Linked DNA regions of Homo sapiens: all the other regions are linked to region 1. Evidence: fine-mapped QTL for protein levels in blood plasma. Region 1 holds a variant in brackets. A gene starts in each other region. All regions are shown on their reverse strands.

What was found. PIP is the posterior inclusion probability: the model's chance that the variant is causal. Protein levels are from antibody-based Olink assays in UK Biobank. Linkage for the fine-mapping came from a reference panel and not from the study's own genotypes, which makes the PIPs less certain.
Region 2: it holds the start of DBH, and the variant in region 1 is fine-mapped to the plasma level of the DBH protein (UK Biobank, PIP 0.98).
Region 3: ADAMTSL2 starts here. The variant in region 1 is fine-mapped to the plasma level of the ADAMTSL2 protein (UK Biobank, PIP above 0.99).
Region 4: it holds the start of SLITRK2, and the variant in region 1 is fine-mapped to the plasma level of the SLITRK2 protein (UK Biobank, PIP 0.98).
Region 5: IL1R1 starts here. The variant in region 1 is fine-mapped to the plasma level of the IL1R1 protein (UK Biobank, PIP above 0.99).

Annotation. Positions count from the first base shown.
Region 1 is chr1:220,824,241-220,830,852 of GRCh38, reverse strand. LINC01352 (long intergenic non-protein coding RNA 1352) reads right to left here and starts at 1,598. Exons shown (of 4, transcript NR_110797.1): 1 at 1,411-1,598; 2 at 1-160. It also overlaps the pseudogene RNU6ATAC35P and the pseudogene LOC124900455. The variant T/G (reference allele first, on the strand shown) is at 3,053.
Region 2 is chr9:133,632,858-133,639,469 of GRCh38, reverse strand. It overlaps DBH (dopamine beta-hydroxylase), which reads right to left and starts at 3,107. Exons shown (of 12, transcript NM_000787.4): 1 at 2,760-3,107. The coding sequence starts at 3,098. RefSeq lists an enhancer at 1,107-1,842.
Region 3 is chr9:133,530,738-133,537,349 of GRCh38, reverse strand. It overlaps ADAMTSL2 (ADAMTS like 2), which reads right to left and starts at 2,646. Exons shown (of 19, transcript NM_014694.4): 1 at 2,433-2,646; 2 at 548-787. The coding sequence starts at 637. RefSeq lists enhancers at 1-535, 1,076-1,617, 2,158-2,699, 2,700-3,239, 3,240-3,781 and a silencer at 4,040-4,129.
Region 4 is chrX:145,811,722-145,818,333 of GRCh38, reverse strand. It overlaps SLITRK2 (SLIT and NTRK like family member 2), which reads right to left and starts at 505. Exons shown (of 5, transcript NM_032539.5): 1 at 308-505.
Region 5 is chr2:102,140,305-102,145,304 of GRCh38, reverse strand. It overlaps IL1R1 (interleukin 1 receptor type 1), which reads right to left and starts at 2,559. Exons shown (of 12, transcript NM_000877.4): 1 at 2,285-2,559. RefSeq lists enhancers at 1,342-1,636, 1,402-1,696.

The DNA of each region.
Region 1 (6,612 bases):
TTCTCTCCTGAGAAGGGAGAGTTTCAATCAACCTTGGCTTTTCATAAAGGACTTGGGGCTGCTGGCTGAATAGCCTGTGTGTTGGGGTTCACCCATGGGGATTTTCAAGGAGGCCTGAATCTTCTGATCCATCCAATCTCTCATTTTACACTTGAAGAAACTGAGGCTGAGAAAGGGGAAGTGACTTGGCCAAGGCCACACAGCAAGGTCAAGATCCAAGACTAAAACCAATTGCTTCTCTGTTTTGCTTATTACTACAGCACAGAAATAAAGAAATAGAGAATGGGAGAGGAGAGGTAGGTGTGGGGAGGCGATATGAAAACATGGAACAAGTGCTCTGCTTTTAGAATAACTAGAACTTTGAGCCCAGAAGATTTCTTTTCTTTTAATAAATAAATGTTTTATAATCTTACTTCTGTGGCTGGTGGGAAAAAAAGTCCTTCAAGTCCCCAAGGAATGTTAGGAAAACCTCCATTAAATTCTAGTCTTCAAATCTGAGTCATAATAACTATAATAAACTCTGGGAGTGTTTCCTTAGAGTTTCTCTTTTAGGGTGGAGAGGAGGCAGCAAAAAGAATAGGCAAGTTTTCACAAGAAAAACTTGTAAATAGGCAAGTATAACAAGAAAATGTATAAACCGGGATGGCTTCATAATTAGGCATAGCCTAATTGTGCTTATGTGTCTAGTCAAGAAACTCTATCTAGAGTTCCAGGGGAAGAAGGTGTTGGGGATGAGGGAGTAGGATTGGTTTGAGGGTAGTAGACTATATAAGGCATCATGCTCCTTCCCATGGAGGGGATGTATGATGGTTAATATTAGGTGTCAACTTGATTAGATTGAAGGATGCAAACTATTGTTCCTGGATGTGTCTGTGAGGGTGTTGCCAAAGATATTAACTTTTGAGTCAGTGGACTGGGAGAGGCAGACCCACCCTCAATCTGGGCGGGCACCATCTAATCAGCTGCCAGCACAGCCAGAATAAAAGCACACAGAGGAACATGGAAGGAGTAGACTTGCTGAGTCTTCCAGCCTTCATCATTCTCTCGTGCTGGATACTTCCTGCCCTCGAACAACAGACTCCAAGTTCTTCAGCTTTTGGACTCTTGGATTTACACCAGCAGTTTGCCGGGGGCTCTGGGGCCTTCAGAAGGCTGCACTGTCAGCTTCCCTACTTTTGAGGTTTGGGGACTCGGACTGGCTTCCCTGCTCTTCGGCTTGCAGACAGCCTATTGTGGGACTTCACCTTGTGCTCATGCAAGTCAATACTACTTAATAAGCTCCCCCTCATTTATACATCTATCCTGTTAGTTCTGTCCCTCTAGAGAAACCTGACTAATATAGCATGTGTATGTGCTTTTCCCTTTGCTTGGAATGCTTGTCCCCACTCTGACCCTAAGCACCACCACAACCTTCCTTCCTGGAGCTCAGGCTGTTATCCTCCAGGGCTCTGCTGATTCCCTGGGCACCCCGCACTCTGCTTCACAGCACTCATCACATTTGTCACTTGTGTAATTTGTTGCTTATCCCAGGCTTCCGTATTACATGATAAGCTCCATTAATGACAGTGTTGTCTGCCTTGGTTTTGTTCATGATGAGCACAGTGCCTGGCCCACAGTACCAGCTCACTAAGTATTTAGCAAAGGGCTTTATGAGGTCATCCCTGGCTCCAGCACCTCACAATCTTTATGGTGACTGTTCAGAGGGCAGCTAAGCAGAAAAGAAGTTTTCAACAAGGCTGTTTCTGGCCTGTTTTCCCTCTCAGTACTACATGGCAAGTCACGTCTCCAAACTGAGGAGTGTGCCTGAAGAGTCAGGTCTGGCAGAGAAAGGATTTCTTGCCCTAGGTTTAAACAAGCAATGTCAACATAACTTCCAAAGGCATCGGCTGCTTGGAAGAAGTGAATCCCTTGGGTCATTCCCTTGATTATTGTGAACCCGTGGCTGAGCAGGACAGAAATGTCACACAGGTGGACTGAGAACAAAATGATTTCAGATATGGGAGCCCCAAAGTGGCATCCCAAGGACAAGTGCTCAGAATTGCATGACTTGGTTTTCTGTTGAGCTATTCTGTCTTGGATAATTACAGCATGAGCTCTTGGCCAGTGGTGGGAATTAATTGGTTTTAATTCTCCCGCAAAGATTCTCTTAAGTAAAAGTAAAACATTTGCAAACTGGAGTTCTTTGAGTTATTGGTAACAACTTACTTTGCACCTCATAGCACACTGGTTAATAGCCTCCGCCAAATAACTAATATTTAGGCACTTTGCTAATGTATGCAAAGTGCTTTTAAGTATTATGCTATTAAATCTTCACAACATCACAGGTAGGTATTAGCACCATCTTACCTATTTTATGGATATCCAAACAGAGGTCTTCAAAAGTTAGAAAATCTGCACAGTCACAGAGCCAGTGGAGCCACAGCTGAGGCATGGACAGGCTGCTCTCCTACCACCTGCCAGGCCGCTCTTGCCCAGCTCATGAGGTCCAAAGTTTTCTCAACAAACTGCTTGGTGTCGATGTTGTAACCTGGAGCATTGCCCTGCAGCAGAAAGGCAGGCCTGGACATTCGCATGTCAGCATGGGGCGAAGCTGATAATTTCCAGTTGGGATCCAAGAAAAAGAAAAGCTCTCCACATGCCAACAACATTGTTATGAAGCTCTCTTGACCCAGCTACCCAACAGTGATCTCAAACATTTGGTCTCTCCAGTGTGTGTATGGGGGTGGGGGGCAGCTGGGCGTGTAGCCTTGTACACTTTGCACTTGGAGAGGTAGGGACAGGGGTCTAAATTAAGGGAAACCCTGCCCAGGGGCTGGCTTTGGGAAGCATGCCCAGCAGCCATGTGGAAGTTCACTGCATTACGGTGAATTACACCAGGTGGGGTGAGTACAGGACAAGGAAGTAGAAGTCAGAGCCTGCTTTTCAAAATCACCCTGCAGGCTGTTGTCCCCAGAAGAAGAGATCAACCTCAGGGGAGACCAGAGTCCTAAACACAAAACAAAAGAGTAATAAGGGAGGAAGCAAATGAAGTTGCTTATCTCATTTATTTATT[T/G]TTCTCTCCCATTTCCGCCTATGCTCCTCCAACTGAACCCCCCCTAGTCTCTGGTTTCCTGGCCACTATCTGGCCAATAACCTCCACATTAGCATCCCCAGCCCCTCTGTGCCCCCTGTAATCTCTTCTCCAGGCTTTGCTGAGGACTGTATTTACTGCCACACAGGATTTCCGTAGGTGATAACAGCAGGGCCTGGTTGGCTTGACCCTCTGTTCAGAGCCAACCCTTGGCTTCTTATGGTGTCCTCTTACAGCAAGGGAAGAATCTTAGTTTCTCCCAAGAATGTGACTCTCTTTAAGTGTCTTACCTACACTCAACAACTAAGCAAGCCTCTTGATGAGCAGCCCTTCACTCTCACATCCTCAACACTGTGGACTGAGAATTTACATTTTTTTAAAAAGGCAGGGCACAGTGGCTCATGCCTGTAATCCCAGCACTTTGGGAGGCTGAGATGGGAGAATCGTTTGAGGCCACAAGTTTGAGACCAGCCTGGCCAACACAGGGAGACTCCATCTCTACAAAAAAATTTTTAAAAATTAGCCAGGCATGTGCTACTTGGGAGGCTGAGGCGGGAGGATTGCTTGAGCCCAGGAGATCGAGGCTACAGTGAGCTGTGATCACACCACTGCACTGCAGCAGCGTGGGTGACAGAGCAGGACCCTGTCTCTAAAAAAAAGTAAAAGATAAATGTAAAATCAGGTCTGTTCTGCTCTGTATGTGTATGGGTGCCCCACATGGAGAGCCAAGAGACATAAGAGGTGCTGAGGGGAATTTTCCAAGGCGGGTCACCCACTTACAAATCTCTAATCTGGGGACTGGATTGTGGGACGGACCTGCAGAACCCACCCCTCCAGGACTCTGACAGGCATCGTCAATCCAGGTCCCCACAGGAAGGGGACCCTTGATGGCCATTCTCATAGAACATGTCCCCACCCTACCACATTCGCTCACCACAGGCTGCTAGCTTTTCACTCAGAAACATATGTGCCTTACAGGGTGATGTGTTCTGTTTTTTAACTTCCTACTAATGTGTAATGCACATTCAGACAAGTACACAAGTCGCAAGCTCAATACATTTTCACAAAGTGGACAGACTTGGGTCATCAGCACCAGATCAATAACAGAGTATTTCCCATGGCCAGAATCTCTTGTCTGCACCTGGCCCCATCACCGCCCACCTCCTTCCCACCCAGTGTAACCACTGTCCCGACTTTGAGCACCACACATCAGGCTTGCCTCCCAGGGGTCACTCTTTAGAAGCTGATTCCAGAGATGCACAGAAGACTTTACTTTTTCTTCATCAGCAATGCCTGAGGCTGGGGAGGCTTGTGGAGCCTGATCTGGGTGTTCTGTGTTACTTTTAACTGTCAAGATCCCTAACACCTTAACACCACGTAAACCAGAGGAATCATAGGGACAGGATTATCTCAGAGAGAAACACAGCGGTGGGCAGCCGGCCAAGTGTGGAGGAAAGTGAGATGAGATCAACAAGAAGGCATTGTCAAGAGTCAGGAGCTGCAAGAGGTCGGGGCCCCCAGGGACAGACTGCAAAGAAGGCAGGAAACTTAAATATATGCTCATACTTTTACCAAAAGGAGAGAGAAAAGAATTCCAACCCCTTCCTGCAGTCTTCATCCCATCATTGTATCTTTCAATTTCTTCCCCATTCTAGAGACACTATTGTAAGCAAAGCCACACCCTCTACCTCTTTAAACACCCATTGCACAATAGAAATATAATGTGAGACACACATAATTTTTTATTGCAGTAAAAGATACATAACATTTACTATTAGTGGCATGTAGTGCATTCACAATATTGTGTAACTGACACCACTATCTAGTTCCAGAACATTTTAATCATCACAAAGGAAACCTCGTACCAATTACACAATCATTTTCCATCCTCAAAACCATGGTTAGATGCTACAAAGAAGGTGGCAATGCCGAAGTTATATGAGTGTTGTACAGGCCTCTTCCATCCTTGTCAAGGGGAATGCTAACCTTCTCTTCTTTATACAACACTCACATATGTAATTTAAAATTTTTTAGTAACCACATTAAGAGGTGAAAAGAGACAGATGAAATTAATTCTAATGCTTTCTTTAACCTAATATTATATAAGCTATTATCATTTCACATGTAATCATTATACAAAAATTACGAAAATAGCTTACATTTTCACTTGTACTGAGTTTTTGAAATTGGGTGTGTATTTTACATACACAGCGCATCTTAATTTCTACTGGCCACGTGTCAAGCACTCGATGACCACACGTGGTTAATGGCTACCATGTCAGACAGTGCAGCTCTAAACAATTCATAAGATGCTATCAACATCCTAAATCATCTTTTTAAAAAGTGATTCTTACATATGCAGAGATTCTAGGCTATGATTTTGATATAAATTTTATGAATTTTAATTAACGACATTTTAAATGGAAAAATTAATTTTAACATAGGCTGGGCACAGTGGTTCAAAACTGTAATCCCACAGCATTTTGGGAGGCCAAGACACGTGGATCACTTGAGCCCAGGAGTTCAAGAACAGCCTGCGCAACATAAAAAACCTCATCTCCACAAAAAATACAAAATTTAGCCAGGCAGAGCTGGGTCCCAGCTACTCATGAGGCTGAGGTGGGAGGATGGCTTGAGTCCTGGAGGCGGAGGTTGCAGTGAACTGAGATTGCACCATAGCACTCCAGCCTGGGTGACAGAGCGAGACTCTGTCTCAGAAAAGAAATTTAATATAAATTTACTTTCTTAATTATAAAAAATAAAATATTTGGAAGCTACAGAAAGAAAAAGTAGCTGTAAGTCCTAAAACAAGGGCAAGGGTAATCACTTTTTAGCACCAGGTGTGTTTAGGACTTCTTTGTGGTTCTTTGCTCATCATATAGCAAATGAAAACTAAATGCCAACACAGCCACTCACCCAGAGACAAACATGCAGACGTCCAAAGGGTCATGACTGTCAGCACACAAAGCCAGGCAGGGTGACCCCTGAGGACAGCGGCAGATTTGTCCCATGGCCTGACAACCCTCCTATTTCATCAGCAATTTTCTAGCAAACCAGGAGCTTGCACCAGCCAAATCTAGAAATCTGGACTCAGCCCAGCATCATGGGAAGCTGCCCTGGCAGTTTTAGGGGATGCAGTTGGTCCCTTCCACGAGGGCCCTGTGGAAGATACACCTAGAACGGTCACACCTTTGCGCCTCTGCAACCATGTGCCTGAGTGTCCCAACTCCGCCACCACCGGAGCTCCCTCCCTTGTGCTGCCTTATGCTTATGGGGGTGTCCATGAAGACTCCTTTTATCAGGAAGTCTTTAAAAGAAGGGGAAATGTCCCTTTTGTTGAGGACTCAGGCGGGAAGAGGAGTGAAAGCAATGGCTGAATTCCCTCCCATTTCAAAACTCCTTCCAACCTTCCAACCTCCAGATCTTTCCAGCATTCTCTCTCCCACACATTTGGACCTAAGCTTAAAAATATGACCTGGGTAATGAGGAGGTGAGTTAACTAGTTTGTATCCAAGAGCCTTTCCAACCCAAACATTCCAGGG
Region 2 (6,612 bases), not on the chromosome of region 1:
GAACAATGCCTCAGACCAATGCTGCCCACATTCATGCAGGCAGGAGAGTTGCGGAGCCTCAGAAAGGGGAGAGTTGGGAACAGGGTGGGACATGAACAGGAAAGGAGAGAGAAACCAGGGTGCCACATCTAAGATGGTGATTGATAGCAGGTGCCCACCCTGCACTGGCACAACCCTGAGAACAAGCACTGCTTTATTACTTTATAAATACATGTAATTTTGGATTTTTTTTTTTTTTTTTTTGAGATAGGGTCTCGCTATGTTGCCTAGGCTGGTCCTGAACTCCTGGCCTCAAGCGGTCCTCCTGCCTTGCCCTCCCAAAGTGCTGGAATTACAGGCATGAGCCACCACACCCAGCCTGAAGCACCACTTTAAACCCTGCAGCCTAGGCATTGTTCCCCTCACCTTAGTCCCAGCCCTGCTTGGAGAAGGTAAACTGAGGCCCAGGGAGGCATTGGACCTGCTGCATTCTCCGAGGATGCTTCCTGGGATCTGGATCAGTGACCTCTGCCCTCCCCGTCTCCGGCCGCTCCCCTTGCACTGGGCCCTAAGGGGCAGGGACACGGTGGCCCGAGGCCAGGTCACATGGAAGACCACCAGGGAGACCCACTGAGAGACAGCGAGGAGCCTTCCCCAACAAGCAGGCTGCCCTTCGTACTCAAGAAGGGCCCTTCTTAGATTCCATATTTGTCTATTTGGCATCTATTAATTGATTGAAGGCTCAAACAGATGGTCAGAGTTGTTTACACCTGTCCTGCCCTCCAACATTCACACGTGTGTGAGAATCATATTCCTAACATTCCGACCCACACCAAGCCCATATCCCTAGCTACCTCCTCCACCTGACTCTCACACCCCAGGCCAATATTGCCCCAACCCTAAAACACCCTAGGGCCAGGAACCAGGCAACTAGAGACCACCCCAGCCACCCAGAGCCCACCAGAATTGTCCAAACGAAGCTGCTTCCCTGCCCTGCCTGGCCTTTCCCATGGAAACCCCAAGAAAGCCTCGGGCCCTTGGCCTTAAGGACTTTGGGTTGTGTTTCTTTTTAATCTTACATTCAGGGTAAAACATCTTTTCTTCATTTCCTTGAGAAAAAAGAAATCTGCAAAAGATACTGCAAAACTTTCCCTAGAGAAAAAAGCCACACAATGCAACCCCGCTGGGGACACCGCTGGTTTGCCGAGAGACTCATTTTAAACAGAGGCAGAAAGTTCGCCTGTGATATTTCAGCTGGAAATCAAGAAGATATTAGTTGAACATATTGCTTAGGGAGGAATAATAAGGCTGACATTTGCTTTCGTAGGAATTTGTTGTGCAAATTAACCTTGCCAGTGCACGGAAAGGCAAAGTCACCTGGCTTCCTCTGGCTTCCCTAGCAGCCGGGAAATGCAGGCAGGGGGGACGCTGCCCCAGAGAGGAGCAAATGCTCCTGCACTCAGGGTGCCTCATGGCAGAGGCTTGCGAAGAACCCCAAACTGTCAGCGATGGGGTTCAGCTGCTCCTCCAGACGGCTGACGGCTCAGAATCAGGGCTGTCCCAGGTCTTTCTTGGCTGGAACCTGAGCCACAGAGTGTCTTTGTGCACAGGAATCTGTGCAGCCCTATGGGTCAGAGCAGGGCCCTTCCCAGGCAGCTCCACTCACCCTACCTGGGTGGCCCTAAGCCTCACTAGCGACACAGGCAAGTGCCTCCTGGCCGAGTCTTGGGAATTGGAGGGGGCAAGCTCAGCTCCAGAAACAGCAGCCACCATCTGCCCTCATGAATTCACAACACCCAAAAAGGCAGAGAGGGACTCTCCGCCCCACCAGCCCATGGTGAGACCAAGATGCAGAGCTGGAGCCGGCCGCTCCGCACAGACACAGCTCCCCCGCTCCAGCTCGGCACTCCCAGATAAAGCAGGCACCTCCTGACTTCAGAAATAAAACTTTTTTGTCACTCCTTTGTGTGTTTCTGTGGAGAGAGTTGGGTTTCATCCACAAAGAAGCCCTGGTGGCCAGTCCCATGTGGAAAGGAAGGCTGGAGCAGGACCCATTGTAGGCGGTGGGCTCGCCCACTTCGGGGACCCCCTGCAGCTTGTGGAAGGGCCTAAAGTCCCCTCCAGTTTGAAGGGAAACTTTTCCCCTTTCTCCACCCTGTGAAACAAGAGTGGAGGTAAATTTGGACGGAAAGGAGTCAAGAGCCCATCCTAACAGTTTTGGCTGAGCCCTGTGGGGCTTGTTCAACACCTATGGGTAGGGGCAGGGTGTCTGCACCTGCTCAGTTGGTCCACGGGTACAAGCACAGTAGGTCAGGCTGGATCCCATGGGTGTGCAGGCCTCATGCTGTGCCCAGCCACGCGCCACCACCTGGCCCACATCAGTGGGCATGTGTGCTCTGGGGACGTGGTACTAGGCATTGTTTACAGGGCCGAGGGTCGTGGGGTCTGTGCTCATGCGCGTGTGGGGTGTGGAGCGGCACGAGTGTGTGTGGTGTGTGCGTCCTCTGTGTATAGTTCCATTCCTTGGGATTACTGGGTCCCATGATTTGGGGCGGGCAGTCAAGGACCATGGAAAGCATGTCTTTCCTATTTTGTCCTCAAACTGAGATCCCCATGATGCCCAAGCTCGGGGTGCAGACTTGGCTCAGAGCAGAGTCAACTCAAACACTGACAGGTGACAGAAGAACTTTCTGGGTTAAGGAGGGTGAGTGCAGAAAGACGGCCAGATGGGGTGCCGGGTCAGGAAGGGTTTGGAGAGCTGGCAGGGAGGAGAGACTCACCGCAAAATAGGCAGTGTCCCCATCGGTCCAGAGCACCACGAGATCTGCGTTCTCAAGCTCGCCACGGTCGGACATCCCAAACAGGACGCCAGCCTTGAGCCTCCGCACCAGGAGCTGGAAATGGATGGCCTCCTGGGTGTAGCTGACATTCCATGAGAGCTCCAGGGACCCCTCCGGGTCCAGGGGGATGTGATAGGGGAGGGGGCTCTCACGGGGAGCCGAGCCCTGCAGTGCGGCCACCAGGATGACCAGGAAGATGGCCACTGCTGTGCTGTACATGAAGGCTGCCTCCCGCATGCTGGGGCCGGGCAGGCTGGCCCAGCGACTGAGGGCGGGCATGGCTGGGGTGAGCTCTCTGGTCCCACCTGGCCATTTATGCCCTGGTCCTGAATGGGGTGGGTCCAGGCAGCACGGGTAATCACATTTGTCTAGCGGGGAATCCAATTTTCCCTCCCACAAGCTTGCGCCCCAGGCCAAGCACTCAGCCTGCTGCCCTCCTCTAATTGGCACTAATGACACATGGACGTCATCAGTGGGAGTTGAAGTAGACAGGCGGATGCTGTCCCTTCTGAGATGGCTCTGAAGAGCTGTCCCAAAAGCAGATGCACCCTGCAGCCAAGAGGCCTTTCAGACACCCTCTGGCCAGGCACCAGCTGACTGCCTCACAGGCTGTCTGGCCCAGTCCCCAGTGGGATGGGGTCTGCGTCGCCTCTACCCACGGATGAGCAGACTGAGGTCCGAGGAGCTGCTCCAGGCTGACCAGTGAAGGATAGGCCCGTAGCCACTGCAGGCCTGGCCTAGCGAGCAGAGCCGTTTGTACAATACTAGCAGGTGGGCCCATTTCAAACCAAAAATAAGACAATCTCCAAATAGTCCCTGTGTTTAGACACTCTCTCCACGGCCTGCTCTTCCCACTTTTGTCTCCTCTCAATTTTTCCACAGCCTCCAGCTGGTACCACTGCTGCTCCAGAAGGCGCGAGAGCATCATAGGGAGTGGGGGACATGGGCGTGGGGTGCATTGCTGGGGACAGACGGAGCTGGAGCTGCACAGGGGATAGGCAGGCTGCAGGGTGCACTGCTGGGGGTGACAGCCTTTAAGGAAAAGAGGGTGAGTGACAGGCCTGCTCCCCTGTCTCTGAAGCTCCCAAACCCACAGCTTCCTCTTGCCCAGAGCAGATCTGGCCTGAATTTGAAGCCTCTCAGGGCAGCTGGCCGCAGCCCTGCTTCTCCCACACCTGCCACAGGACCTTTGCCATCATCCACCCGTGGGCCCGAGGGTCAGTCTCACCACGGCACCTCTCCCTCCTGTCCTCTCCCACAAGTAGACTGAGGGCAGCTGCCTTCAGGACATTCTGCTTGATCCCTCCAGCTCCACCCCCCAGGCTGGGTTGACAGATCTCTCCAGCTGGACTAGAAGCTGTCCCTCCTCCCCAGCCTCCTCCCTCCCTTCCTTCCTTTTCCCTCCTGTTTCTCGTCTCTCTGGAGAAACCCAGAATCTAGCCTTAGGGGCACATTCATGTCATAGGCTGACAGCAACATTTAGGTCCTTAAATACCCATGACAGCAGGTCTGGAGGCTGCTTCAGCTCTGAGCTCTACGCTGTAGAAAGGAATGACTGTGTCTTTGCACGAACGTGAAATTTGGAGAAAGTGCCAGCCTTCCCCTGGCCCTCGCAGGCAGTGCTCTCTGCCCCACAGTGGCCAGGCCATCCTGCAAAGCCAAGCTCAGGCCATGAGCCCCTCCCCACTGATTGCACCCAGAGGGGCACCGTTCGCCCCCACCCACAGCCCAGGCAGGTGAGGTCCAAGTGCATAATCACCTGTGCAATAGAGTGTGGCATTGGTGTGAAATTGTCTCCCAGGCCAGGGGAAAGACACTCTTGGGAGTTCTCTGGTGAGCCTTGGGAAGGGTCTCAGCCTCCGAAGGCCTGGCTTTCCCATCAGGACATGCCACCTCCGTCGCCTGAGAGCACCTCACCTTCATGCCTCAGATTAGTTCCAAAACCTCCTCACCTGTGCCTTGTAAGCAGGTGTCTGCTGCATCCCGGACATTCACTCTCGGGACTGGGGAGCGGCCACAGCGAGCCGGTGATACGAAGAGCCTCCGGGGTGGGCAGGCACTGGTGTTCCCAGCACGGGATAACAAAAGCCAGCAGAGGCAGAGGTGAGGGTCACGGGCTCCACAGCACACCCAGCTCAGGGGTGAGCCCTCCCAGCAGCCTGGTGGCCACCCAGGTGGCTCCAGCTAGACAACAGGCTAAACGAGCACCAGCTGGGGCCCGCGTTGTGGGAAGGGGGGCACCTCTCTCCCCTCTGGGGTATTGAGGCCCCAGGCACCCCTCCTGCTCCTCCGGGGTCAGAGCTCTGGGGTCATATCCTGCTCCGCCCTCCTGAATGCGCAGCTGGCGTCCTCAGAGAAGCGCTTTCCAACCCAGCGCCTCCTCCCCATCTACAGACACAGGAAGTTGGATGACAAGGACAATTGATCCCTCCAGCTTCCTTCAACCCAGCGGTTCTGTGGAGCGAGAGGCAGTGAAGAGCCCCTGATGCTACCAGCCCTTGGACGGCTCAACACACCTCCAGGCCTCGCTCCTCTCCCGGATACGCCAAAGACCAACAGCTGCTGGGAGCTCTAAGGAGGGACGGCAGGTGCGGTCTCGTGCTCAGCAGTGTTATGCACACATGTTTATTTTTAACAGGAATCAAAGACATTTTCTTTATCCAACTCAAAACTGGCTTTCCTCTAGCATTTGACAGAAATGATTCAGCTGATTCCAAAATACTGATAACTAAGTCCTAGGGAGGGACAGGAGACACAAGTCAGGCCGCACCAGGGCTTCCCCTGCCCTGCCTCCATCCTGGCCAGCCTTGGGTGGCTGGGTGTGCGATCATCCCTGTCTCAGACACAGGAGAGTCAGCCTCGGAGAGGCGAGACAATGCGCCTGAGCTCACAGGGTGGGCCAGTGCCTGGGGCAAGCACCCCAAAGAGGGTGCCCTGAGCTGGAGGGGGCTGCACACCTTGTCAGCCAAGGTCAGAAAAATTCCACTGGAGTCAAGAGGAAGGGACGCTCAAATGAAAAATGCAACCGCAGAGAAAATCTGCGGAGACTGGGGCCGGGCGGGAGGGAGCGAATCCAATCGGATGGCCCCGTGGCTGCGCCCTTCCTTGCATTAATGGATTTTAAAAGGGAGCAATCCGACCCCAGGGTAAGGAAGCAACAGTCAGCTCTCCTCCTGCCCTCACCCTCCTCAGAGGTGACACCTGCTTGCCAGGTGCTCTCTTGGCCACATGCCTCCCTGTGGTGCCCCGCGGGGGGCTTTCCTCCCTGCTCCCACCCCTGCTGCCTCTGCTCCAGTGTCTGGGTGCACGTTGCCCTCCAGAGGTGGCGGTGGGGGTGGGGATGGGAATGGGGGTGGGAGTGGGGTTGGGGGTGGGGTAGGCCGGGGAGGTGCAGGGTGTCACGGCCACGGTGTCAGGAAATAAGCCCCATTCCTGCTGCTCAGCGCCTGGCTTCCCTCCAAGGCGCATCGACGGCTGACCTTGTTTAGAACCAATTTCAGCTTTTTAATAAGCCCTTTGCTTTCCTGAATCTCTCTGATGCCATCAGCCTTTGCAGGCTGTAATTCCCCATCGCCTCTGCCACATGAGGCTGGCTTCTGCTGACGTCCTAACCTCAGGCAGTGACAACCCCAAGTGGAGCGACGGTGGTGCAGACTGGAGCTGGGTGAGTGAACAGGCCAGGCCACTCCCCAGTGACAACGGGGCCTGGCCACAGGACAGCACTGTCCCTCGCCTGTGGCTCAGGCTCTTAGGGACCTCCTCTTGGCAGGAAAAATTCAACTATCAGTCTGAT
Region 3 (6,612 bases), not on the chromosome of region 1:
CTGCCCCCACCCCATGCCCGAGGGTATCACCGTCAGCGGGACCAGAAGACACAGCCCCCTGGCTGGGCCCCCTTGCAGGGTCACTCGGCAGCTTGGGTTCAGATCTCCTGGGTGGCGCTGGGGGGAACTCCCAAGGAACCGTGGGCCACGGGTCCTCCTTGACCTTAAGGTCCAGGATGGCCTGGGGGCTTGGCAAGCTCCTGGGGCCGCATCTAACTGTCCTCACTTTCCCCGGAGCAGCTCAGGGCCCAACTGCGTTCTGCAGGACACAGCCTACCCTGGCCGTGCTGGGGCCTTCACTTGGAAGGGAAGCACTCAGCCCCCTCAGCCCTCGCCTGCCAAGTCGCCAGGGGCTCCACAGTAGCCAGGGCCCCAGTTCAGAGGCTGATCTGACTGGCTCTGGGCAGAAGTTTCTAGGAGCCAAGATGGGTTCTGGGACCTGGGGCACGTGCCCACACGGCTCCCTCCAAGCCAGTCCATCTGAGAGTGATCACAGCACCTGGGTAGGGGACTGGCATGGGCCCTCAGACCACAACACCCCACTCACCGTGGACCCGGTTGACACTGTGTCCCCAGCTACAACTGCCAGAACCAGCAGGAACCAGGCCCAGCAGGAACATTGCCATCTGCCATCCATCCTAGGAAGCAAGGCCACTGTCACCACCAGGCCAGCTCCGATCCTCTTCCAGATGACCAGGGTACGCTTTGGGAAGAGCCCTCGGGGCCCAGCCAGTGCCCAGGCCTCAAGGTTATCTGGGACTAGTTGGTCGTGGTTGTCTGGCAGACCCTGTTGGGAAGGATGAACCCCCCGCCTCAGTCTAGGCTTAGCAAGAAGGAGCTTGGTGAATGATTAGTAATGCCTGCTTCAGGCAAGACACCCAGCGGCGGTGTGCGTGCTAAGCCTGTGCCACCCTTGATCCAAGGGCATGCAGGGAAGCATGCCATGCTTTGCCTCCAAGTCCTCAAGCCCCCTAGAGAAGGGCTGTGGAGACAGCCAGCCTCGGCTGAGGGGGCTGGGGACCCAGGCGGGGGGAAAGGCTCTGGTTCGAAGGGATGGGCCTGGGCTCAGTCCAGCGCCTTGGCAGGAGCACCTTGGGATTTTAACTGGCTCAGCTCTTGCTGGCCTCGCAGGAGAATGGCCTCTGCCACTGGCTGCTAGGGTCAGTGCATGGGGATGGGCTTGGCCAGGTCCCGGGGGAATGTGCAGCCTCGCCCTAGACCAGCAGCTCCACAGTCAGCATCCAGCAACAGCCGGCACTCAGGTGAGGCAGAACCCAGGTACCTATGCCGCCTCCCGATCCCCGGAGAGAAGATGGAATTGGGGGAGGGGCAGGGCAGGAGGAGGTGCAGTTTGTGCCAGCATGTCAGCAGTCCAGGGCCACAAGGCTGACTTCCTCCCAACAGCCAGCACCCTTGGCTCAAAACACCTGCCAGGGGTCAAAGCAAGCCCATTGGAAGGGACTGTCCAGCCTCCAGGCCCTCAGCTCTCCCCACCCCCTCCTCAGCGTCGACCCTGCCCTGTGGAAGGGAAGACCAGAGATCCACCATGACCTCTGTCCAGGCCTTGCTCAGGTGCTGAGGGTCACTTGCCAGCGAGTTAGAGAAGGGATTTCAGAAACCACGCAGCCTGCACTCATAACCTGGAGCCCAGAGAGGGGAGCCAACCTGCTCAAAGCCACACAGCAAGGTAGCACACTAGCAAACTCAGGGACTCGACCCCCACGCCTGGCCAATTCCAGGGGAAGAAGGCATGGAGGTCACCCCTCACCCCTGCCAGGCCAGAGGCCAACTCGGGCTCTGCCCCTCCCTCCTCAGCAGCCTCCATCCAACTTGAAGAGTTTCCTTGCAGGCCCGGCACCTGCAGATTTTCAGGGGCCACTCCAAGGACACCACTGCAGCCCGGACGACGCAGCAGTGCACCCTGGAGTGGGGAGCCTGAGTCTGACCTCCCCTGCCCCCGCCGCCTGCCCCCCACCTCCCTCCCCTGCAGACCTCCATCTGCACTCTCAGCCTCACACCCACAGGAGCCCCCTCCACTGTGCCATTGGCTAACGGGTGCCCCAGCCTCTGCCTGCCGGCTGAAGACAGGTGCCAGCCGGCCTCACACTTGCTTTTTTCATTAAGGCTTCCAGACACCACTGGCTTCTGGCCAGGCCTCGCTCACGGGGATCCATCCCTCCCTGGGGTCCAAAAGCAGCGGCTGGCGGCAGCAGAGAGGTCTGCCGTGCACACAGAGCTCCGGGCGCACAAGGCTAGGTGCTGGGAGGCCACCCTGCCCCGTGCTCTGCGGCCCGACCCCTCCCCACAAGCCTCCCCACGTTATGTAACGGCTCCAGAGGGCGCGGGGTGCTCCTACCCCCAGCCCCACTCTGAGCAGTGGGCTGGCCTGGTGGACGCTGCAACGTGAGGGGGACGGGGACGAGGTGGCCTACCTGGCTTCGGGTCAGCAGGTTGTCCTCCCAGAGAAAGGGGCGAGCGCTGCGGAGGGCAGACGGCGCCAGGTGCGCTGTGCGTGCGGGGGCGGCGTGAGTGCAGAGGCTGCGGCCCGGCCTCCCTCTCCCCTTCCCCTCCTCCCCCGCGCCGCCTCCCTCTCCCACTTCAAAGAGCATCCAAGAGAGGGGGTTCCCGGGAGGGGCGCAGCCCAGTGGCGGCTCTGCGCCGGCGGCCGCCTTTATAGCTGTCAGGCAGACGGGGAGGAACACTCACACTTCCCACCAGGCCGCTCCCCCGCCCGCGCCGGCCGGCCTGGCGCACACTTTAACCCGCTCTGCGCCTCTGGAGCCCGGCCAGGCCGGCCCAGCTGCCTGTTGGCTGCTGCCGGCGGCGGCGGCCCAGGAGCGGCGAGCAGGGAGGCCTTCTTCCCGGGTCCAGAACTGGGGGCCACATGTCGGGTGTCCAGACGGAGCAGCCGCTGGCCTGAGGTTACCGGGGAGGCTGGCGGTGGCAAAGCCCCAGCCCCGCCTGTCCGGCTTCTGCCTCCAGAGCGGGCCCTGTCCCTGGGGCTCCTGAGAATGGGGTCTGGGATGTATGAGGTGTCCCGTCTGATGGCTCCGTTGTACGGAGGGAAAGGCTGAACTTCCGGGACGACCGTGCCCCAGGTCACGAGCCTCAGAAAGCTCCCGAGATGCAGGGGCCTAAGCAGGTGGAGGGACGCAGGGAGACCCAGCGAGAATGAACCAAGGGCTCCAGGGAGGAGACAGATGTGCCCGTGGCCTGCTGACCAGATGGCTAGAGCAGCCAGGGCCAGGGCAGAGAGGCTCAGGGATTCTGCAGATGTCCAGCACCAACTTGGCAGCCCCTGGCAGGCCAGGCCTGGAGCTCAAGCCTCTGTTCCTGCTGAGTCAGGGCACAGAGGGGAGCGAGAGTGGGTGGAGCAGCAGAGCCCCCCTGGGAAACTCCCGGCGGGCCCCAGACTTTGTGAGGCTTTCCTAAAGCAAGGCTGGGCACCTAGCCTCTGCACACCAGCTTCCCCAGAGCCCATCCTCGGCAAACAGAGGCACCTCCAAAAAGGGGAGGAGGAGGAAGCTGGGGCACCATTCCATCAGGTCATCTGTGTCTTTTCATCCATGCCCCTGCCTCCATGCAGCAGATGTCCTGGGCCCACAGCAGTGCCGGGAAGACACTTCTCCTTCCCTCTGTCCTCCCTGCTGGAAGAAACTTGTGAGTTCCTTCAGCTGCCTTCATGAGAAAGTTCTGCCCTGTGTCTGACCACCCACCAGAAAGGCTGGGAAGGAAAGCCACCAGTAATAGTAGTGAAAGCGATAATACCGTCTGCCCTCTGTCCAGCTTGTCCTACGGGCCCAGAGCTGTGAGGCCAGATCCACCTTTATGATCTGCATTTCACAGGTGGAAGAACTGAGGTTCGGGGACCAAGTCACCTCTCCAGTAGGCAAGGCTGGGATGCCAGCGCTCCTGAGTGTCGGGTTCTCTCCTCTGCCGGGTTGTTTAAGTTTCTCTCCCCGGGACCCTCGGGCAGGCAAGTCTTATTCATCTCATTCTCCTGCTGGGGCAACTGGGATGCAAGGTGGCTGCTCCTAGTCACAGGGCCACCTGCGGTGTGGAACCAGGACTAACCCTAACCCTAACCCAGGCCCACACTGCCCCCTGGGGTCGCTGTGCTGAATCACAGACATGGTGGCACCTGTCACCCAGCACACACACACACACACACACACACACACACACAGGCACACACACACCCAGTCCCTCTCACATGACCGGATTACACTCGCTCTGGGTGCCTCTGCCATCCCCTTCCTCTCTCTTCTGGTGACCGCCAGGCCTCGCACCCCTTGGCACAGTCCCCGAGCTCTCCTGGCGTTTGTGGCCTCACATCCAGCCAGCGCCAGGGTGACTAACGGTTTCCCTTGGGAGGGACCCCACAGCCGACCAACACAAACACCCCCAGTGTCTTCTCTTGGCTCAGCAGGACGGCACAGGCTGCAGGCTGGCCACCTGGGAGACGGGTCTGTGGGGCCAGCCATCCCCTGGCTCTGTGACCTCCTGCAGGTGTGTGACCCTCCAGGCCCCAGCTCCCCTGGCCAGCCACACTTCCACACCACCCCCACCCCTTACCCCAGAGCCTGCAGACTTGAGGCCCACAGGGAGCCATGACTGGCACGTAGCAGGTGCTCTGGTAGCTCCTGATGCCAGGGGCTCCTTACCCCTTAGAGAGTGCTGTTGAGGTGAGTCCCCCACTCTCCAGGATCCCTCTTCGGCCTGCAAATTCCCGGCCTCTCAGGGCCTTCCCCATGTAGGATGGTCTCAGCCCACACCTACCGGCACTTGTAGGGGTGTTGCAGCCGTATGGCCCTGGTGCTGGAGACACCACCTGCCTTTAGAAGGGGATTGTTGGCCAGGCGCAGTGGCTCATGCCTATAATCCCAGCAGTTTGAGAGGCTGAAGCAGGGGGATCACACGAGGTCAGGAGTTTGAGACCAGCATGGCCAACATGGTAAAATCCTGTCTCTACTAAAAATACAAAAATTAGCTGGGCGTGGTGGCGGGCACCTGTAATCCCAGCTACTCGGAAGGCTGAGGCAGGAGAATTGCTTGAACCTGGGAGGTGGAGGTTGCAGTGAGCCGAGATCTCGCCGCTGCCCTCCAGTCTGGGTGAAAGAGTGAGATTCCGTCTCAAAAAGAAAAAAAGAGAGAGAAAAAAAAGAAGGGGATTTTCTCCGCCAGTGTTTTCCAGATATCTGAGGAGCTTAGAAATAGGACAGCAGGAATATGTGTGGGGGATGCCCGGGAGGGTGGGGTTCCAGGGAAAACACGGCGGGGATAGAGAAGCAGGCTTGAGGCAGAGGGGCTGGTGGGCCGTGGCTGACCACTTTGGAGGTTCCCTGGGGAGGATGTTAGGCTGCCGCAGTGGGAGCAGGGCCTGTCCTCACAGCAAAGTGGCCACAGCAGGCTCGGGAGTTTAAGGACGTGGCCCGAGCTGTCGAGGTGGGTCCCCTCTCTGTCACCCAGAGGCCTAGCAGGCCTGGCAAATGTATGTGTGTAGTGTGGTTCACCTAGCCGATAGGGCTGGCCGGCCACAGCCTCAAGAGTGGCCCACCAATACCACCTTCCCTGGCATCCTGCGGTTCTTCTCTGTTGCCAGCCCAGGACCCAGAACATCCTAGGAGCCTCCTGGGCAGACCCAGCCAGAGTTCTCACACCTGACTGGGACGGGGCCACCAAGGGACCATGTGGCCAGCTGGGAGGTGGCTGGCAGCCCCGGAAGAGGACCAGGACTCAGAAGGCAGCCCCAGGGAAAGAGCGAGGGGGCCTCAGCAACCCCAAGAGCCGTCCCTGTCCCCGAGCTTCCTTCCTGGCCCAGGATAGAAGCCAGCTGTCCCTGAGACCCCCCTGGGGCTGGATATACGGGAAGAGCCTCCCCCGCCTTCCCTGGCTGGTCCCAGGTCCATGCACGACCACTGGCTGGCCAGGTCACTTCAGGCCACTTGTCCCTGACAGGCCGAGTTTCCTGGTCTGTTGCACAAGGTCAAGGTCCTTTTTTAGCCCCAGACATCTCACAGGCACACTCAAGAGACAACTGAGACAAAAGCAGAGGTGGGGGCTCCTGCTTCCCCTCTTCTCCCCAGCAGCCCTGAGGCCCCTTCTGGGCACCAGGACTCCTGGAAGCATCATCTGAAAGCTGGCGGACCGGAAGAACCCCAGCCCCCAGCAGCCCCTCGGGCTCTGCTCGCACACGGCCATGACCTCCAGAGATGCCCCGTGTCAGGGATATCTGCTGGGGGCAGGAGGACATCACCAAGCCAGTGAGCTCTTTCTTCCATGCCACCCACAGTGACCAGGGGCGGGCAGCCACTGGTGTCACAGCCAGGTGAAGCAGGAAACCCAGGACCTTGGATCCCGACACTCAGAAGGGCCCCGTCTCAGAGGCTTAGCGTGGAGGCTCAGCATAGGAAGCAGCAGCTCTTCCAATAGCACAGCAACAGCAGCCTCACGCGTGAGTGCCTGGAACCGGACTCTTTGGGTTCAAATCCTGACTCCGTCTCTCTCCAGCTGGGTGACTTTGGGCGAGGGCAGAAGCTTCTCTGTGCCTCAGCTTCCTCACCTGTAAAGTGGCGGTGATAAGGCACTCCCCATGCTGGACTCTTGTGAGGC
Region 4 (6,612 bases), not on the chromosome of region 1:
GCACTGCAGGCCGACCGGAGGCTTCTAGCTCGCGCCGGGTGCGTGGGCCCTCCCTGGCCGCCTGTGCCACCCCGCTGCGCGAGGCGCGGAGCCCGACCACGCCCGCGCGGACGGTCCCGGGGTGAGGAATCTCCAGTGGGGATTGAGGGTAGAGGGCGGCCGCCAGCGAGCTGCCCTCCGCGGATGGCGCCCAGCCTCCCCACGCTGGTGCCCCTCGCAAGGAGAGGTGGCCGGGAAAGGCAACGGACTGAGGAAAGCCGGCTCACTGGCCGCGTCGCCACCGCGTCCCTGAGTGCTCAGAACTTACCGAGCGAGCGCGCCGCCCAGATCTTTTCCCGGAGGCGCCCGCAGCATCTGCGACTCGGGGAGGCAAAGGAGCCGGCACCGCCTCGGACTGGCGCAGCCCAGGAGCGAGAGCACCGCGGGGAGCGCGGGCGGCGCCCCCAGGGCAGGCAGATCCCCACCGAGCAGCTAGCCAACGGGCAACGCTTCTTGCAGGAAGGAGGGAGGGAGGCGAGAGGGAGGAGGGAAGTAAAGCGGGAGGGAGGAGAGGGGAAGAAGGGAGGGAGGAGGGAGGAGGGAGGGAGGAGGGAGGAGGGAGTGAGGAGGGAGGAGGGAGGGAGGAGGGAGGGAGGGATCGCGTCCCCCCTCTCCCTCACTTATCAATCACCCCACAGATCAAATATCCGGGCTGTGCACCCAGGACGGGGATGTAAGAGCCCACAAAGGAGCCGCTGCTCCATTTCTCTGACAAGCGCTGCGGAGCACTGCTCACGCCTCTCGGTCCCTCTTGCCTGGAACTCTGCCCAGCCCTTGCGGCTTCCACCCTGGGCTGCAGCTCGGGCTCGGTCAAGTGAAATAAGAATGGCACACGGTCGGTACCATGTCCAAGGGGAGACTAAGACTACTGGGTGGAAGTTAACGACAAGTGAAAGAGCAGTCAGCCATCCGAGCTGGACACCCTCCGGGACAGCTGCCTCCCCTAACTAGTAAGCGCCCAGTCTTTGGGAGTTCGCAGGCAGATATTTAAGAACCTCCTACGAGGATCGTAAACAAGGACTTTCAACATAAGATAGAGCTGAACTTGAGTTGTGCAAGTGTGTTAACAAAGCAAGCCCTTAGCAGCGTTCCAGTGCCCATTTTGATTCCCTTTATTCTTCACGACGACGTTGCCTGGATCTTCTAGAGCGTGATTTTTGCCATCCTCCCTTCCCTTTTCTCCTTTCTTCTTCCTCTTATTAGTAGTCCAGGTGGTTGTGATTCTATTAAAGGAAGGCGCTCTGTGAAAAGAGTCAGTGTAGTTCAAGAGGGAGGTGCGGTTTTTGCCAAGAGCATTGCGTTTCCCCTCAAGACTTGCTTTCTCTAGGGCCTCTCCTCTACTCTTCCAGAGTATTCGAGATAAAGTTGCAGTTTGATAAATTTATGCCAGGAGTAGGGAGTTCATTTGATGACACTAAGTCATTTTCCCCTCCATCCTGTAGGAGAACGTCATTAATTCAAGTCGTTGCCACCCCCTATCCTTTTCATGCCCGCTAGAGTCTGCAAAACCCCAAATCCTTCTTACTGTCGAAAAGCGTGATGGTGGAGAGCAGACGGGGAGGCGAGGAGAGAGGTGCAAAATTAGACGCAAAATTACCTCTCCAGCTAGTGGATCTGCATTGGAATTTGTCTGTTTCCATATTTCCCATGCCTTTCAACTCGTTCTCACAGCACTGACAACCACCTTTTTCTTGTCCTTCCCGTGGGAATCTTTTGTGCTTCTCCTGTCCTCTCTTCTTGGCTTTCTTTCATAATGGTTTTCTAAGGAGATTATGCTGGGCTTTTTAAAAAGAAAACTACTGGCAATCTTATATTATGAAGATGTACAGAGTTTGCTTTAATAATAGTCGGAAGAATTATAATCGTATCTTCGGAGTTGTAAGGGTCATTACTGTTCCTTTTATTTCATTCTTGAGAAAGCCTTTTTGAAATCTTCCTACCATTCAGATAAGCAACTTCGGAATAACATAGTTCTCACATAAGCACGTGGGCAGTGTATGTACGGTTATATATCCAGAAGCATTGCTCTTCTTTTTACAATATCTGTATTAGTGTAAACATCCAATGTGCTGTTTGCTACAGACTAAAAGCAGTGCACTGAGCACATCATATTATTAACTAAATGAGGTCAGTTAATACTGTTACTTCTGTCTTTACCGTATTTCTGACTGTGTCATCTTTTCATGTCGCTTTTAGTAGATGTTATAAACAACTGCAAAACACAGAGCTAAGAGGCCATTCCAATACAGAAATAATGAGACAGTCATGCTGAAAAACTCAGACAGTTTACTAAGAAGGGTGATGTGTCTGTAGCCAAAGGGAACATACAAAATAAGCAAAAACTTCTATACAGAGTAGAGAAGGAACATGGCATTAATGATGAAAAGTGATACTTTATTTAGATCCAGTAGTAACATGTAATAGATGGCATGCATCAATTTTAATTAGCCTTGTAAGCAAGTCTAACCTGTTCACCAGCCTTCGAAAAGCATTTAGCAGCCTGCCTTTCCACATGGGACCACACTGATAGTAAGACAAAATTAAAAAGAGCAGACTTTTCTTTTTGTCAGCATAAAATTTTCAAGTAGGTGGATAGCTGTGCTTTGAATGCACAGACACGAAAATTGATGAGCAATATAAAACTTTCTGAGAGGGTTTTGCATAGACAGTTATAATGGAGGAGAGTTTGAAGTCTGTGAAAAATTTAAATATGCCAATTTATTTGAAAGCTGCTTTATGCTGAATTTTCTAAAAGCTTCTGTGTTAGAGGAAAATTTCCAAATAGAATTGAATACTAGAGACACCATATTAATGTACTTCTGTTCATTAATAAAAATCACATTATTCTTCTTTATACTAGCACTGTAAATGTATCTTTATATCCATGTGCTGTTTTCTTTTTGAAAAACTTTTATTTTAGGTTCAGGTGTACGTGTGCAAGTTTGTTATATAGGTAAATTGCATGTGGTGGGGGTTTGGTTTACTGTAAGCTACTTTCTATTGTGAAGTTCGTGTTACTAAACAACATAGAGATCCCGATTGGAAAACTAGTGGAAAAACAGAGAAATAAAACTAAATCTTGCCTGGGTTTTTATAATTTCATTCTAAGGTTAGAAGAAAACCAGAAATTTCACCTGCGATGAGTGAGATAAAAAGCGCATATGTTTCCAGGATGATGTAAAGGATGTCCTATTACTGTGTAGTACGTAATTTACCTGAGAATGTTGCTTTTTCAACTTCTTCACACCTATCCAGAACTAGAAAGCTTTAAAACATATAAAAGAAGACAAAATGTGCTGCATTTTCAGTGAACATAGTTTCTTTCCAACCAAAGGTTTCAAAGAAGAGTGCCACAGAACAAATTCCTAAATAAAGAAACGCAACAAAGCGGACATGCCCTTAATATTAGTAATTATAGTTTACAGGATATTGTAGACTTTTGTTCCTGATGTTATTGAAAAGGTGGATATTTTTCAATTCAATTCAATTATTTGGATTATTTGGCAGGCATTTTGGCCTGATTGAAATAGTGCTGGGCCAAGACCCAGGGCAGTTTTTCTTTTAATCAAATACATATCCAAGCCCTTGGAGCCCAATGACCTGGGTTCAAATTCCACCCGTGCTACTTTCTCACAATGGGACAAAAACAGCATTACACCAATTTCAGTTCCCCATGTGTAAAACTGGCACCTGCTATGTGGAGTCAGTAAGGATGGGATGTATACAGAACTCTTGAAAATTGAACGGTGGTACATGTATGTGCAAATAAATCTTAAACTAAAAAAATTTTTAACTCACTTCTTAAAATAAATAAGTTATACAAAATATTTTATATCTGTTTTCTATGTTTCTCATGACAATCCTCAACAGGCCAGTATGATTAGCCAGACTTTACAAAAGAGGAAAGTGAGACTCAGAAAATTTAAGTAACTTACCCTTACTCCCATTCTTGGTGAAATGGTTGATTTTAGTCAGAAACCAACATCTTAATTTAAGTTGGATAACAGAATTAGCATTAGAAAAAATATTTATGATTCTAGTTGGAGCCATGTAATGTCAAACATTTAAAATAACTTCAAAAAAATTCCATCTTTCATTTTACAGATGTTTTCAAATAGTTACATATATGTATACATCAGGGCTCAAACTCAACACTGTTGATATATTTGGTCAAATGATTATTTGTTGTGGGGGCTGCCCTATGCAATGTAGAAGGATTAGCAGCGTCACTGGCTTTTGTGTGTGTGTGTAATGTGCATATGTATACTATATATACATACGTGTAATTATATAAATGTAATAAGTAATATAACAATATATAATGAAATATTATTCTATTGTAGTCGATTTTTTAAATGCTTGGCTGTGGCCCACTAAACTGAACTCAGGAGTGACTGTAGATTGCCTCTTACAGTTTGAATAACACTGCCACGCTGGAATGGGCAGGAAAGGAAGGAAAATGGGATAGAAAGGAGAAAAGAGGCAGTAGATCAAGAGGGGAAGTACAGAAATAGAAGGAAAAGACAACTGCATGTCTTACAAAGTTATAGAAAGACTTATGGTGCCCCCATCAATTACACCAAGTGCCACTTATTAATGATACCTGTTCTCTAAGGGCTCTGGCTCTCCCTCTTTTTTGACTGAGTCCAGTGATTTATCAGTAAGAACCACATTTAAGCTTACTAGACTTGGGAGCACATATACATGGCAAAAGCCACAAATTTAACAGATAAGGCTCAGGACAGCATTAGTAGGTATTTCATCTATCCTGACACATTCTATCTTATGAATTTTGCTGCAGCTGGAAGTCATATTTTGGTTTGGAGTTACAACCTAATGTGTTCAGGAGGAAGCCAAATTTATTAGGTTTGACATTGCACTTTATTGGAATGGTATAATGCAGTTGAGCCTCTGTAATAAGTTCTGTTGATTTTATTTATGTATTTATGTTTGGCTAGTATAAATATATGGTAAAGTATGTGCTGTGGTAGAGAGTTTAATGCTGACTCTGCTGGAAAATTCAAAAATGTCTGCATAGAAGATGCCCAGTTCTAAAGAGTTACGGTCAGAGGAGCAGCTACTCAGGATTTGCACTAAGTAGTTCTGATTTTTAAAAATGTCATCATTTGTGAAGAGGACTAGTCTATTAATATGAACAAAATGGCAAGGATGACATACCCCAGATCTACCTGAAGTTGTGATTTGCACAAAATGAAGCAGAGTTTCAAAATTGTAGGTTTAGAAATGAGGCAAGTAAGATCTAGAATGTAAATAAAATCATTTCCAGTAATAACTGGATGCCGCATTCAACCATCATTGCAAATCAATGTGAGGAGAATGGATGTTTTTTACCTTGAATCCTGATGACTTATTACTCAGATGTGATATCAATTATTTTTGTCCCCTTCTATTTTTCATCTCCCAGGCAGTTTCTTAAGTGACAGTACAATGACATTTGGAATACAACCCTCTTCACCTGATTATGGTAGGTCAGGTAACCTCTTAGTCAGATGTAACGGCCCCAGGACATATATTAAGTAACTTTTGCATCTGCCTTTGGTCTCACTATATTCCTAAGCAAATTGAAAAGAAAATGAGCCTCAAGTTTTATGAGTTTTAGATTACCTAAATACACCTGAAGTTCTCTTAGAAGAATAGCCTGAAGTGTCTCTGAGGTGGAAGAATTATATGCAGCATCTTGAAAGCATCACTTTGCGGGAATCTCAGGAAACCATGCCAATATTGAAAGCATAATTATCACCAAATTTTTCTTCCACCGTGGGCATCACCACAGCAACACAAGTACAGGAGTGGGGTCAGTGTCACTTTATTAATATTTTGAAAGGAGGCAAAAGCAAGCTTATTTTTTTTTGCTACACATCGTTGCTTCAGAATAATAAATTCAGTATGCTGATCCTTTAGCTTTTCATATATAGGTCTAGTTGACCGAGGTTAGAGAATGGCACAATTAGAACTGGAAAATTTATTTGCCTTAATTTGAATATATTGAACTGTTTAATGTATTTTTCAATAAAAATACTAATATGTAGGGAGCGCTGTACATGACTGCTAAATGATGAACGCTGGTTATTATTTGCAGCATGGAAAGACAACTGTCAAATTAATGAACTGATGTTCTGGTTACAATTTTAAAAAATATAATCACTCAATTTCAGGTAACTCCTATACTTGAATATAAATAAACATTGTATAACAATTTTGACTAAACCTGGATCCCTGCTGTAAAGTTCCAGTTGCTTGGAATTCAAATGTCATATGATTTACTGAAGGTTCTGAATGGATCTGCTTTGATTTATATTGCAACATTGGGGTGTATTGAATTCCAATGAAATTGTTGATTTGTTATCTTTGCTATGGCCATTAGCCAAATTCATTCTTGAGCTGCAGTGGTGATGTAGATCACAGCTTACCTGGCTTCATCAAGTTGTGTTTCTCTATGGTTTTTAAGTATGTGGTTTGGCTAAAGTAGAGTTCAAGGACACAGATGGACCATAATACCTATATTAAATTAAACATCCAACTTCTTGATCAATTTTCAGTGTTAATATGCAA
Region 5 (5,000 bases), not on the chromosome of region 1:
CAGATCCTTGTCTTGTGCCACCAGCCCACCTCACAACCTCAAGAAGAAGAAAATGCAAACCAAGCACCCATTCACGGCAACAGATGGGTAGCATCCTGGAGCTGTGCCATGGCAGGTGAGCCACAGGTGCCCCTGACAACTTCTTTTAAAATGGCAAGAACCTAGTATATCCATTATGTAGCATAAGAATATAAGGATCTCTGTACTTCTCCACCCACTATGCTATGGTAGTTTCACCGCAATTGTCCAGCTTTGCCTCTCTTATTACTGAGATGTCTTCTCCATAATGTCCCAGCTTGCAGGTGGACACTCAGCTCGCACTGATGCATCCCAGCCACAGGGTTTCCATCTGCCCTGGTCCCTGTGCATGGCCAAGCCACAGAGTGTAGCTCCACCTCCTAGAGCTCCACATCCTAGGAACTGAGGCAAGGGACACCACAAACTTGGAGAATAGCAGCCCTGCGATTCTCTAGGGAACCACAGAGCTACATCTGTGCCCATCATCTCCTCGTCCTCTCCATTGGGGCTGCTGAGTGGTGTCCTCTAGGTAGCCAGTGCATCCACACCCTTGTACAAAGGGGCGGATTTCAAAGACCCCCCTTTTGAAGAGAGACTGCTGACATCCTATGTCTTACCAAGAAGACTCATGTCCATAAGGGGACAGAGGTTTTCACTTGTCGTATTCACCGCTGTCTCCCCACCACTCACCACAGTGCCTGGCACATAGTAGATAGTCAATAAATCTTTAATAAATTAGTGAATCTACTATTAAGCAGTGTTTCAACAATGGTGAGAGGTTGACTCAAAAGATGTCACAGGTTTCAGAACCATAAAAAAAAAACTTGATGTCACATTATGACATACAAGCAGGGCCTATTAGAAATGGGGGTGCTGCTCTGGGCCTGCCAAGGTCATGTGAGAATTCAGATCAAATATCCTTTCCTGAACAGCATGGAGGCCACATGAGAGTGGACGGGTGCAGGAGACGCTTCACACACAGCAGCTTGGCAGCTAGCCAGAGACTGAAAATAAATCAGAGTTCCACACCCCTGCCCCAGCAAACCCCATTCTCAAAGGCTCTACCTTTCTGTCTAGCATAAACGTTAACATCGGATATGAATACAGAATATTAAATGAAATATCAAATGAGATATCACACAATAAATTAGAAGGGATTGAGAAAGAAAACAATGCCAATAGCCGCTTGGTAAACTGGATGGCAAAAAGGACAGTGAACGTCCCCATGCCACCTCTGGCTTTCCTCAGCTCATCAATAGTCATGGAGTTCTGTTTCATACATTCAATGTCCAGAAGCCTGGCACCAAACCGCAGCGACTGAGACATCCATCACATTCCCGTGACGAATGGACCCTTGCTCCATGACCTCAAGAGCCCAAGTTCATGGTGTCCCTTGCCTCAGTTCCTAGAATGTAAAGCTAAATCACAGGAATGTGGCCATCTGAGAAGCTACCCTGCCCCAAAGATAAGGCAGTGGAGAGACAGCCCAGCAGGAGCCAGCATCTGCGTGCCTTCCCAGCGGCCTTCCTTCCTCCCGGCAGTGCAGAGGAGAAAGCCCTGGCAGGCAGGACGAGTGGGAGGGAAGACAGAGGGGGGCTGCATGCAGAGGTCTTACCCTCCTTCAGGACATCATCCTCCAACAAGTTGGTCACCTAAACTTCTGCTTCCCCCGCTGTAAAACAGGGGTGATGACAGCACCCTCCTCACAAGACTGTAGGGAGGGTAAAAGACCAGTTGCTGTCAAGGGCTTATAAACTGTAAAGTGCTGGGCATGACTGTTGTAAATAATGAGTGTCTTCTCAGCGCCTACTTGCTTGTAGCTACATTCCCTAGCACCATCCTTTATCTGGAGGGGCAACAAGTTACCCTCCCCAGTGTGGTTAAGGCCTCAGCCCTTACCTTGTTAAGGAGACTGACGGTCCTGAGCCTAACCTCTAAGAGGGACGCTCCTGAACCTGTAGAACGTAGCCGGATAGAAAACCTGAAAGCCATTCACACGGGAAGTCACACACCTACCTAGAACCCCCCTCCAGAACAACTGGCAAGTTCCTTCAAACGACCTGAACAACGTTAACTCTTGCTCCACACAAGAAACACACACACGCAGACCTCACCGCCATCCCCTTCTTACACAACACACTCTGACAACCAAGTGCAACTTAGGGAGGACGCTCACGGCGTCCTGCAGAGCGGGGGACTCGAAGGTGTCAAGGCTGTGGTCCGTCTCACCCCTACCTAGTCCCCGGATGCTCCAGCTTCCCCGTACCTGGACGGACGGCCGTGGAGGGTGATGGGATCCCAGCCCCGGGCGGAACCCGGCTCAGCTCAGAGGGGCGAGAGCCCTAGGAGCCGAGCGAGGAGTGCTTCGGTGCGCGGGCGCGCGATTGTCACATTCCTGCCGCTCCCTGGGGCGCGCGGGGCAGGCCGGCGCCCCCACCGCCCGGCCCGGCCGCTCTCCGGCTCCTCCCGGCCGGCGCCGCGCGCTCCGAGTCGGCTCCGGCCGCCGGCCACAAGCTGCGCCCGCCCTCGCGGCCGGGAACTGCCGGGCGCGGCTCTGGCTCTAGCCCCGCCGCTGCGGGGGCGGGGAACGGGCGGAGACGGCTCGGCTGGGCCAGTCCGCGGGCTGCGAGCGAGCTGGCCGGGTGTCCCAACTCTCCACCCGGAGGAGCAGGCGCGGCTGGACAGACCCCTGCGGACACCGCCCTGCCCCGGGTAGCCCGCAGGGGTCCCGCCGGTTCCAAAGCATTGGAGAGCTGCCGGGCGCTCTCGAGTCGCGGCCCGGCTCCTCCAGGGCTGCGGCGGCTCCACTAGAGTTAGTTGAGACAACTCACCTAGCCACTACGACCTGGCTCTACTACCCCCATGGAGCCTGGCTGCGACCCGCGAATTGAGTTGGCGACTCCAGGGCATCAGATCCCGAAGCAAACGCTCGCCAGAGCGACCTCTGGAGCTTGGTGCCTGGCCAGGGGCTCTCTCCGACTGGCTTTGTGCACTAATTTCTTTGTACCTCCGTTTCCTCTTCTGTGAAAAAGGGATCATAAGAGCACTCATCTCATGGAGTGGTTGAAAACAGTTTTTTAAAAAAAATGAGCTAATACATATAAAATAGTGCCAGGCCCAGAGCTGATACTACTCACGCGTTATCTGCTGGTTTCATTGTTGCTGTTACGCGCCCGGATGAAAAAAGCAATTTAAGTGTCATACTATAAAATCTTGATACCACACTTGGGGGCAGACAGGGTTTTTAAATTTTTAAACTTAAAACCCACTTATGCCCACCAGCTCACTTTGCCAATGAGAATTCACACCCAGGGGAATGGAAGGATGGCCAAGGTCATGCAGCGAACGAACGCCTGGCAGGATCACACCTTGGGCTCCTTGCAGGGAGAGGAGGGGAGGGCGCAGTGGTCGAGTCTGCAGCTCCCTCGGGCTTTCCCCCTCCACTTCGCTAGTCTTCAGCAAGTGACTGGCCCCTCCAGCTTGTTTGGAGGTCTTCATGGGCCATCCTCCAAGAAGAGTTTTAATAAATGATGATAGCTTCCTTCCTTCTAGTACACACCGCCCCTTCCTGCATCCCTTTCAGACTGGGCAGGCTCTTGTTCTCGTAACCCACCCCTGGATATGCCTCTTCAGAAACTCAAGAATTGAGGTAACCTGAGCCTCAGCTGCCCCCGGACAAATCCAGGCTGGAGGAAAAGATGAAGGAATGAGCAGCAGAAGCTCATCTGCCCTAAAAGCTGTCTTGCAACCTGGCATGATGACAATTTCTCATTCTTAAACAATCTGTTTCCAGAAGCTTTTATGGTTCCTTTTCCTCGAGAAAGCAGGCTTACATCAGAGGCCAGTGACGTAGCATTAAGAGAATTCCTTAACAATCCCAGCTCTCAATATTCCTTTATACAGCAGAAGGTCTCACAGCCTTGACTCCACTCAGAATCACCGGAGGACATGACACTCCTGTGTTCAGATCAGTCACGTCAGAGTCTCTGGGGCTGAGGCCCAAAAGGCAGTGTTTTTAAAGCTCCCAGGTAATTCCAGTGCAGCTGGGGTTGCAAGCAGTTGTTCCTCTAAGCTCCCACAGTGATGCCATTACTGTGAATCCTCCAACTGAAGGCTGCTTCAACCACGTGTCCAAATGGCAGTTCTGAAAGCTACAGCAGGTGGGCCTGGCTCCATGCTGTGGAACCAGCCCAGAAGCACTATGATGGTGAACATAAATTCGTCCTTCCATTTTCATAATGAAGGTTTTTAAGCAGTTTACAAGTAGAAAGTGAAATTGATTTGTGCAACCATGTAGAAATAAAATCCGTAATTTTTGTCTTTTTTAAGTGTTGTCCCCGTTCAGCCACTCCTACCCAGTGTCCTGCTAGACATGCAGGCCTCTAGACCCAGGTGGGACTCTCAAACACCCGCCCAACACAGAAATGGAATTGGAAGACCTCCTCTTTCTCACCTTATTACCACTGTTCTATCTGGGACCTTCAAGTCACCTTCTCCCTCACTCAGCCATCCTGACCACTTTCACTGACTTTCTCCTTCCCTTTATTTCCTTTCCTTGGATAACTGGTGTGCCTGCCTGTCTCACTCCATCCCCTGGGTAGGAGGCTTCCGTAAGGTGGAGACTGTCATCCCTGTATCCCTATCTGCTCTGGTCTCAGCACCACAAAAATGCTCTGAGCACATCAACATGCTTTAGTGTAAAGCCTACTGCTTACACTGACATTGTATGCTAGTGATGCAATCCAATGGCCCACATCTTGGACAAAAACTTACAAGAAACAGAAATAGCATTGTTAGCCTCTGGACACCTTCCGGGGTGTCTCCCTCCCACCTCTGAAATGCTTATCATTCAGGAGACTTAACTGAGACCCTGTCCCCTGAGGGTTTTCAGTTTCTCCTCCACTTGTCTAGCTGATCAGATCCCAGGACCCTCTTTGGGAAGAGTTTCTGATAATGCACATGAAACAAAATCATATTGACCA